Homo sapiens: one gene and its partners. The protein of the gene in region 1 interacts with the protein of each later gene in a biochemical or structural test. Each region holds a gene or a part of one and is shown in the gene's direction. Other genes may lie near its edges.

The links.
Region 2: the proteins of RGS4 (region 1) and GNAO1 form a complex in vitro, tested with the Homo sapiens proteins (2 studies listed by BioGRID).
Region 3: the proteins of RGS4 (region 1) and UBR1 interact in a test that uses a peptide from one of them, tested with the Homo sapiens proteins (one study listed by BioGRID).

What each region holds. Positions count from the first base shown.
Region 1 is NC_000001.11:163,074,664-163,077,368, forward strand, and holds the end of RGS4 (regulator of G-protein signaling 4), read left to right. Parts: 3' UTR 1-2,139; downstream 2,140-2,705. UniProt on the Homo sapiens protein: Inhibits signal transduction by increasing the GTPase activity of G protein alpha subunits thereby driving them into their inactive GDP-bound form. Activity on G(z)-alpha is inhibited by phosphorylation of the G-protein.
Region 2 is NC_000016.10:56,334,489-56,337,988, forward strand, and holds part of GNAO1 (guanine nucleotide-binding protein G(o) subunit alpha), read left to right. Parts: intron 1-240; coding exon 241-369; intron 370-2,242; coding exon 2,243-2,372; intron 2,373-3,500. UniProt on the Homo sapiens protein: Guanine nucleotide-binding proteins (G proteins) function as transducers downstream of G protein-coupled receptors (GPCRs) in numerous signaling cascades.
Region 3 is NC_000015.10:43,095,972-43,099,705, reverse strand, and holds part of UBR1 (E3 ubiquitin-protein ligase UBR1), read left to right. Parts: intron 1-3,734. UniProt on the Homo sapiens protein: E3 ubiquitin-protein ligase which is a component of the N-end rule pathway. Recognizes and binds proteins bearing specific N-terminal residues that are destabilizing according to the N-end rule, leading to their ubiquitination and subsequent degradation.

The sequences.
Region 1 (2,705 bases):
TAGCCTAATATTCATGCTGCCTGCCATGTGTGAGTCACTTCTACGCATAAACTAGATATAGCTTTTGGTGTTTGAGTGTTCATCAGGGTGGGACCCCATTCCAGTCCAATTTTCCTAAGTTTCTTTGAGGGTTCCATGGGAGCAAATATCTAAATAATGGCCTGGTAGGTCTGGATTTTCAAAGATTGTTGGCAGTTTCCTCCTCCCAACAGTTTTACCTCGGGATGGTTGGTTAGTGCATGTCACATGACATCCACATGCACATGTATTCTGTTGGCCAGCACGTTCTCCAGACTCTAGATGTTTAGATGAGGTTGAGCTATGATATGTGCTTGTGTGTATGTCTATGTGTATATATTATATATACATTAGACACACATATACATTATTTCTGTATATAGATGTCTGTGTATACATATGTATGTGTGAGTGTATGTATACACACACACACACACACACACACACACTTTTGCAAGAGTGATGGGAAAGACCCTAGGTGCTCATAACTAGAGTATGTGTATGTACTTACATGGGTGTTTTGATCTCTGTTCTTTCATACTACATTTGAACAGGGCAAAATGAACTAACTGCCATGTAGGCTAAGAAAGAAATGCTAACCTGTGGAAAGTTGGTTTTGTAAAATTCCATGGATCTTGCTGGAGAAGCATCCAAGGAACTTCATGCTTGATTTGACCACTGACAGCCTCCACCTTGAGCACTATTCTAAGGAGCAAATACCTTAGCTCCCTTGAGCTGGTTTTCTCTGATGGCACTTTTGAGCTCCTAAGCTGCCAGCCTTCCCTTCTTTTCCTGGGTGCTCAGGGCATGCTTATTAGCAGCTGGGTTGGTATGGAGTTGGCAGACAGGATGTTCAACTTAATGAAGAAATACAGCTAAGGCCTTGCCAGCAACACCTGCCGTAAGTTACTGGCTGAGTGAGGGCATAGAAGTTAAAGGTTACTGTTTTTATCCTCTATCCTTTTTTCCTTTCCTGATCAAGGTGCTCTTCTCATTTTTTCCTGAGAACCTTAGCCATCAGATGAGGCTCCTTAGTTTATTGTGGTTGGTTGTTTTTTCTTTATAATGGCTCTGGGCTATATGCCTATATTTATAAACCAGCAGCAGGGGAAAGATTATATTTTATAAGAGGGAACAAATTTTCACAATTTGAAAAGCCCACATAAGTTTTCTCTTTTAAGGTAGAATCTTGTTAATTTCATTCCAAACATCGGGGCTAACAGAGACTGGAGGCATTTCTTTTTAGGCTCTGAGACTAAATGAGAGGAAAAGAAAAGAAAAAAAAAATGATTGTCTAACCAATTGTGAGAATTACTGTTTGAAACTTTTCAAGGCACATTGAAATACTTGAAAACTTCTCATTTATGTTATTTATGATGTTATTTTGTACGTGTTATTATTATTATATTGTTTTATAAATGGAGGTACAGGATATCACCTGAATTATTAATGAATGCCCAGGAAGTAATTTTCTTCTCATTCTTCTAAAACTACTGCCTTTCAAAGTGCACACACACGCGTCCACATACACTGCATTCGTTGCTCCAGTATAAATTACATGCATGAGCACCTTTCTGGCTTTTAAGCCAATATAATGGGCTGCAAAATGAAGACACCAGAGTGTATGCATACAAATCTCACTGTATTAAAGATGCAGGTTTTCTAATTGTACCCTTCTTGTCTCTCTGGCAATCTTGCCCTTAATATCCCTGGAGTTCCTCATCAGTGTCATTTTCTGTTATACACAGTTCCACAATTTTGTCTCTAGTTGACTTCAAATGTGTAACTTTATTGGTCTTGCCCTATTATAATTGTCATGACTTTCAGATTGTATCTGAACTCACAGACTGCTGTCTTACTAATAGGTCTGGAAGGTCACGCTGAATGAGAAGTAAATTATTTTATGTAATACATTTTTGAGTGTGTTTTTCAGTTGTATTTCCCTGTTATTTCATCACTATTTCCAATGGTGAGCTTGCCTGCTCATGCTCCCTGGACAGAATACTCCTTCCTTTTGCATGCCTGTTTCTATCATGTGCTTGATAGGCCTCAAAGCTAATGCTTCCAGTGAAACACACGCATCTTAATAATAAGGGTAAATAAACGCTCCATATGAAACTATTTGCTTGGAAACACATTAATGATCCAGAGACATGCTATGAGAAACATCAGGGTGTAGGGTGACTTTAGAAAAATACTCATACTGAGTCTTTAATCCCTCCTGTGCCAGTGAACTCTGGGAAAGAAAGTACAAACTGAATATTGTTTATTCTTTAGTTCATGCCACTGCTCTGCTTGGCTCTACTCATAGAACCAAGGCAATCTTAGCTTCAGAGACTGCAAAACAGATTAAGTGATTTGCTTGCAGATTCTCAATCAATTTTCAAGGGATAGAGTTCACCTTCCAGAGCCATTCTTTTATTTCCAGTTACCCGCCTGTTTGAGAGATGATAGAGCAGTGGGAAATTGAGAGAGTTGAAAGGAGCTATAGATTCTTACCCAAACTTCAAAAATCCTTCCCTCCCTTTTGTTAATTCTCTTTCCTGGAAAAGAGGTCATAAAATGTTCACATCCTCAGTAATAGGCCCTGTGCTGTGTCTATTATGTCATGAGACTCCCATTTCCTGACCCTTCTTTCCCATTGTAAGAGTAGTAGTTACAAGGTGTTAAGGATAGATGATCTTCAA
Region 2 (3,500 bases), on another chromosome or scaffold:
TGTCCCGGGAGCTGCATGCGTAGCCCTTTTGGCTGTGAATGAGTGCGTGAGGCCAAGACCCCTAAGACCCACTTCCTCAGTCGCCCCCACTCCCTATGGCCTGGAATGGAGGTGATGTCTTTTCCACAGTGACCTGGAGGGGCCCTGACCGAGACTGGACTCTGAAGATGGGTGGCCTGGCCAGTCCCGAACAGTGTCCAGGCATTTGGTCCATAGTCCCCTGTTTGTTGCCATCCTCAGCTACCTGGACAGCCTGGATCGGATTGGGGCCGCCGACTACCAGCCCACCGAGCAGGACATCCTCCGAACCAGGGTCAAAACCACTGGCATCGTAGAAACCCACTTCACATTCAAGAACCTCCACTTCAGGTGAGGCCCAGAGAGGCCCCCAGGCCCTGGCGAGGGCTAAGATGGGACATGCCCAGCCTCTCAGCGCATTGCGTTTACAGCGCCCAAACATCATCCTGCCCCAGGGAACCTGCGGGCTGGGGCAGGCAGCTAGATACTAGAAGGAACCTGTCTGTGTTTCTGCCAAGGTTAGGGGCTGGAGTGAGCAGGGAGGCTTTCTGGAAGAAGATTCCCAGAGTGGGGCTGTGAGGAACAGGGAGGATTTGGACAAGGAGGGGCAGCCTGTCCCTGAGGTGACTTCCAAGGAGGAGGAGGAGGTGGGCTACCAGGGGGCCCTTCCAAGGTCACCTTGGGGGGAGGAGCCAAGAGTGGGGCTGGGTAAGCCCAAGCTACCTCTGTGAGACCCTGAGGACCCAAGTAATCCCAGAGCTGGAAGGAGCAGAGAGAGCTGACCCACCCTCTCCTAGTACGCTTGGGAAGCTGAGGCCTGACAAGAGCAGGGCTTTTCCCAGGCACAGAGCACAGCTAGAACCCAGGGGCTCTGGGGCCTCAGAGCAGGGGCCTGACGGGTGAGCTGGTTCCCAGGGTCCTGCTGCAGCGCTGTGTCCCCACCTGCAGTAACATGCGTGCACTGAGGCCTGCTCCGTCCTGTGGGGAAGAGAGGCCAGCAGAGAAGGGGAGGGCAGGGACCCCTGCTGGGAGAGCTGGATTCTAATATTCCCTGCCTCCCATGTCCCCAACTCCTGCCCGCTCCTGTTCAGACTGAGGGGCCGAGGCTCTGGGCCCAGGAACCCCTAGGCCTCCGCAGATCTGGGGAGCAAAACCTTGGGCAGAGCAGCCCTGAGGGGCCTCTCTTGCCTTCCCAGGCTCCTTGGTCTCTCCTGCTCCCCCACTGGGAGCACAGGATGGGGATCTCAGCTCAACCCAGCCCAGCAAGGCGGGGTCTGAGAATAAGCATTCTGGAGGGGCCACAGAGGCCATCTGCCAACGCCCCTGCATTTCAGATGGGGAGGTGGGATCCAGGGGAGGATCCCCTGATTGATGGAATGAGAACCAGACCCATTCCTTGCTCTGAGCCCACACTAATCTCTGCCTGCAGTCACTCCGTTGTGTCCGGTGGGACCAGAGATCCTTCCCTGTCCCCCTCTGGCAGGCTGTGTGTCAGCAGGCATCCCAGATCTAGGAGGCTACAGGACTCCTCGCTCTGGGGATTGGGGTGGGAGACTGACCTTTTACTTCCAGGACGTAAGTCCCACCTGCCCACAGTCTCTTCCAGAATTTTTGTGCCCCCTCGGGAGTAGAGTCTGAGAGGGGGAAGAGGCCAGGCTCTGATCTGCCAGAAAGGGGCCGTACTGGGCAGAGGTGAGAGCGCCAGCTTTGTCCACAGCCAGACCCAGCTCCACCACAGCTGGACTCTCGCCAGCTTGGGCATGTCCTAAGCCCATGGGTGGCTCACTTCTGCCATCCACATAACAGGTGACATCTCCTGCCTGCCTCCCTCCCAGGCTGGTTTGGAGTTTGCCCAGAGCAAACCCAGGAAGGAATAGACTGAGAGGAGGGTCCTCATGCGAGGAGGACTCTCAGAGGCACTTCCTGGGGGTGGCTCAGGTGCGCCCTCTTAGTAAAATGCTCCTCAGATGCAAGGGCAGGTCTTTGAGTCATGATCTGTGAGCACAGCCAGTCCCAGGACAGACTCCAGGGGTAGTGCCTGGGGATGGCAGTGATCCAGCTGTCTGTCATCACCTGGAGTGACAAGGTCTTCTAGTGAGGGCTTTTAGCAAGGCTCTGAGCACCATGGCCCCCATCCTCTGCCTCTCAGCGTGCTCACAGCTTAATCCCCAGGCAGCCCTCACCTGCCTGGACCCTGCGCCTACCAGCTCCCTGCCTCCTACAGGCTGTTTGACGTCGGAGGCCAGCGATCTGAACGCAAGAAGTGGATCCATTGCTTCGAGGACGTCACGGCCATCATTTTCTGTGTCGCGCTCAGCGGCTATGACCAGGTGCTCCACGAAGACGAAACCACGGTGAGTGGCCTGGGCCCCCCGGGCAGGGGGCAGCGCTGAGGAGACGGCCGCAGGATAGGCCAGCCCTCTGAGCACTGGGCCTCGGGTGCCCACAATGGCTCTGGGGTCCAGCCAGCTGTTGTGGTTAGAGGTTTCCATCATGGACAGGCCGTGCCGGCACTCCACCAATTCTGTATTGCCAAGGCAAATGCCTCATGATGCCAGTGTGGCAGAGCCTGTGTATGCAACCTGATCACACAGAGCCGTGCAGAATGTGCCTCTTCCATAAACTTGGTGGAGTCACAGAGGCCATCAGGCCATAGCAAATTTAAGCAAACCCTAAAAAAACCAGGAGGCAGCCAAGCAAGAATGTACAGGCAACAGAAATAGCAGTCTTAGCCTGACAGCCATCCCTGGGGCACTGGCGTCAGATGCTGCTGAAGCAGCATGGGGCCGGGGATGCTGAGGGAGAGGTGGGGAGGGCCCAGGATGCTGCAGGAGAGTTGCGTGGGGTTGGGGGTGCTGGGGAGCAGTGTGTGGGGCTGATGGGCCAGGAAGGGCAATGGGGATGAGGCATGCTGGTGAGTGACAGTCGTGGCTCTGGGCTCCTTTGCCAAATGCCAGACCAGGCTCCTACCTTCTGTCTTGCGTCACATTCAGCCTAGGGCCTCAGTGAGGGGACATTCCCCTGGGAGAGTGCAGCCTTCCTCTGGGTCTAGTCCTGGCTCTGCTACTCACTGGCTTGCTGCTGAATTTAGGCAGCACCCTTTCTGGCTCAGTTACTATTTTCCATAAAAGGGAGATAATAATAGTACCTGCCTGTGGGGGGCTGTTGGCAGTGGGGTGGGTGATGCGTGTGCAGCGCTCTGGAGCTGTTTCTGGGACAGCAGCGCCAAGCTGGTGGTTGTACAGTTGCTGGTGATTGCCCTGAGCCTGCAGGTCCACTGCGTGGTCCCCTTCTGGGCTGCAGCCCGCCAGGCACCGAGCATGGCCCACAGGGTCACTGGAGACAAGCCCCAACACTCCTGACAGCGGGGCCCATAGGCTATGGGGTCACAGCCTGGCGTCTGTCATCTCCTTCTGTCTGGAACACATGCAAATCCCCCACCCCACGCCTCTGAAGGCTGGCACCGAGGGTTTGAGGTTGGA
Region 3 (3,734 bases), on another chromosome or scaffold:
GCACATTGCTTCAAAGTTTTTATTGAATGTATGAATGAATGAATGAATGAGAAGACACTGAGGTAGAGAGGAAGTGGGGGTAATAGAAGCTGAGAATGTTAAGAGATATTAACATTATTGAGATATAATTTACATACAATAAAATGTACCCATTTAAGGCGTTTCTTGGATAAATTTTAACAAATGTATATACTTGTGTGACTACCACCAAATCAGGTTATAGAATATTTCTGTTATTTCCCAAAGTTGTCTCCTGCTGAAATGGGAGGATTTTTTAAAAGTTTAATATTGTTATGGTTACGCAATAATCATTATGGAAATCAAAGAAAAATGTACCCATAATCTCATATCTGTAGGGGAACTTTTTTTTTTTGTTTTTTTGGAGACGTCACCCAGGCTGGAGTGCAGTGGTGCAATCTTGGCTCTCTGAAACCTCTGCCTCCTGGGTTCAAGCAATTCTCTTGCCTCAGCCTCCCGAGTAGCTGGGATTACAGGTGCACACCACCATGCCCACCTAATTTTTGTATTTTTAGTAGAGACGGGATTTTGCCGTGTTGGCCGGGCTGGTCTCAAACTCCTGACCTCAGGTGATCCACCCGCCTCAGCCTCCCAAAGTGCTGGGATTACAGATGTGAGCCACCGTGCCTGGGCTATAGGGGATCTTTAAAATACAACATAATCTCTTGACTTCAATATAGAAGTGAGGAGTTATATGTGATTTTAATTGGAGATGATTTTCCTTAGAAATTTGAATCTATATTGTTTTAGGCCAGAGCACAGTTTTGTGTAGTAAGGACACACTCTGAGTGGGAAAACTGATGAAAATGTAGGTCTTTTGAGTCTAACTGAAGTACTTTGTCACCAGATCTTAGCAAGACCTAATGGCTTTTGTTTTTTCACCATCTCATAATTTCTATTTTGGGGAGTTAGGGAAATTTTGATTTTTTAATGCCAGATTCTATAGAATTAGATGTGAAATTGAGTTCTAAAACTCTAAGTCAAAATGACTGATTCAGCCCCACTAACTAAGAGTCTAGGGAAGGAACAGTAACTTAGTGTAGATGTGCTAGTGCTGGAAACTGACTTCTTATAATACCAAACATCCTGCAAATGAAAAGGTTTTTGTCCTCAGTACTGCACAAAGAGTGTGTCTGGATAGATACTTTTATAAATCAGTGATACAGATGAACCAGTGAAATACAGGCATACCTTATTTTATTGAGCTTTATTATTGTGCTTTGTAGATAATCAGTTCTTTACAAATTGAAAGTCTATGGCAACCCTGTCTCAAGGAAGCCTTTCAGTGCCATTTTTTCAACATTGTGTGCTCACTTCGTGTCATTGTGTCACATTTTGGTAATTCTCACAATACTTCAAACTTTTTCATTATTATATCTGTTATGATGATCTGTGATCAGTGACCTTTGATGTTACTATTGTAATTGTTTTGGGGTGCCATGAACCACATCCATAAAAGACAGCAAACATAATAAAAAAAGCTGTGTTTGTTCTGACTGCCCCACTGACCAGCTACTTATCCATCTCTCTCCGTCTCCTTGGGCATCCCTATACCCTAAGATGGGACAATACTAAAATTAAGCCAGTTAACCCTACAATGGCCTCTAAGTATTCTAGTGAAAAGGAAAGTTCAACATTTCTCACTTTAAATCAAAAGCTAGAAATGATGAAGCTTAGTGAGGAAGGCTGTTGAAAGCTGACATAGGCCAAGAGTTATGCCTCTTGTGCCAAGCAGTTAGCCAAGTTGTGAATGCAGAGGAAAAGTTCTTGAAGGAAATTAAAAGTGCTACTCTAGTGAACAGACAAATAATAAGAAAGTGAAACAGCCTTACTGATGATGTGGAAAAAGTTTTAGTGCTCTGGATAGAAGATTGAACCAGCCACAATATTCCCTTAAGGCAAAACCTAATCAAAGAGCAAGGCCCTCACTCTCTTCAGTTCTCCGAAGGCTGAGAGAAGTGAGGAAGCTGCAGAAGAAAAGTTGGAAGCTGGCAGAGGTTGGTTCGTGATGTTTAAGAAAAGAAACCATCTCCACAACATAAAAGTGCAGCGTGAAGCAGTAAGTGCTGATTGATGGAGAAGATGCAGCAAGTTATGCAGAAGATCTAGCTAAGATAATTGATGAAGGTGGCTACACTAAACAGATTTTCCATGTAAACGAAACAGCCTTCTGTTGGAAGAAGATGCCATCTAGAGCTTTCATAGCTAGAGAGAAGTCAATGCCTGGCTTCAAAGGACAGGCTGACTCTCTTGCTAGCGGCTAATGCAGCTGGTAATTTTAAGTTGAAGCCAATTTCCATTTACCATTCAGAAAATCCAAGAATACTTAAGAATTATGCTACTCTGCGTATGTTGAATAAATGGAACTAGAAAGCCTGGATGACAGTACATCTGTTATAACATGATTTACTGAATATTTTAAGTCCACTGTAGAGAACTGCTGAGAAAAAAAAAAGATTCTTTTCAAAATATACTGCTTATTGACAATACATTTGGTCACCCAAAAGCTCTGATGGAGATATACAAGGAGATAAATGTTATTTTCATGCCTGCTAACACAATATCCATTCTGTAGCCCATGGATCAAGGAGTAATTGCAACTCTCAACTCTTACTATTTAAGAAACACATTTCATAAAACTATAGCTTTCATAAATTACGATTCCTCTGATAGATGTGGGCAAAGTCAATTGAAAAACTTTTGGAAAGGATTCAGCATTCTAGATGCCATTAGGAACATTCATAGTTTGTGGGAGGAGGTCAAAATATCAACATGAACAGGAGTTTGGAAGAAGTTGATTCCAACCCTCCTGGATGACTTTGAGGGGTTCAAGACTTTAGTAGAGGAAGTAACTGCAGATGTGGTAGAAATAAGAGAACTAGAATTAGAAGTGGAGGTTGAAGTTATGACTGAATTGCTGTAAACACATGATAAAACTTAATGGATGAGGAATTGTTTCTTCTGGATGAGCAGAGAAAGTGGTTTCTTGAGATGGAATCTACTTTTGGTGAAGATGCTGTGAACATTGTTTAAATAAGAACAAATGATTTAGAATATTCCATAAACATAGTTGATAAAGCAGCCGCAGAGTTGGCAAGGATTGACTCCAGTTTTGAAAGAAGTTCTGCCATTGGTAACATGCTATCACATGCTACAGAGAAATCTTTTGTGAAAAGGTCAATCAATGTGGCAGACTTCATGGTTGTCTTATTTTAAGAAATTGCCTGGCCGGGCGCGTTGGCTCACGGCTGTAATCCCAGCACTTTGGGAGGCCGAGGTGGGCGGATTGCCTAAGGTCAGGAGTTTGAGACCAGCCTGACCAACATGGTGAAACCCCATCTCTACCAAAAATACAAAAATGAGCCAGGCGCCTGTAATCCCAGCTACTCGGGAGACTGAGGCAGGAGAATTGCTTCAATCCGGCAGGCGGAGATTGCAGTGAGCCCAGATCGTGCCACTGCACTCCAGTCTGAGGGATAGAGTGAGACTCTGTCTCAGAAAAAAAAAAAAAAAGAGAGAAATTGCCATAGCCACCCCCACGTTTAGCAATCACCAACCTAATCAGTCAGCCATTAATATTGAGGGAAGATCCCCCTATCAGCAAAAAGATGACAACTTTCTAAAGACTCAGATGATCATTAGCATTTTTTAGCAGTATTTTAACATTAAGTACATTTTTAAAGACTTCATACTATTGCACTCTTAGTATAGTGTAG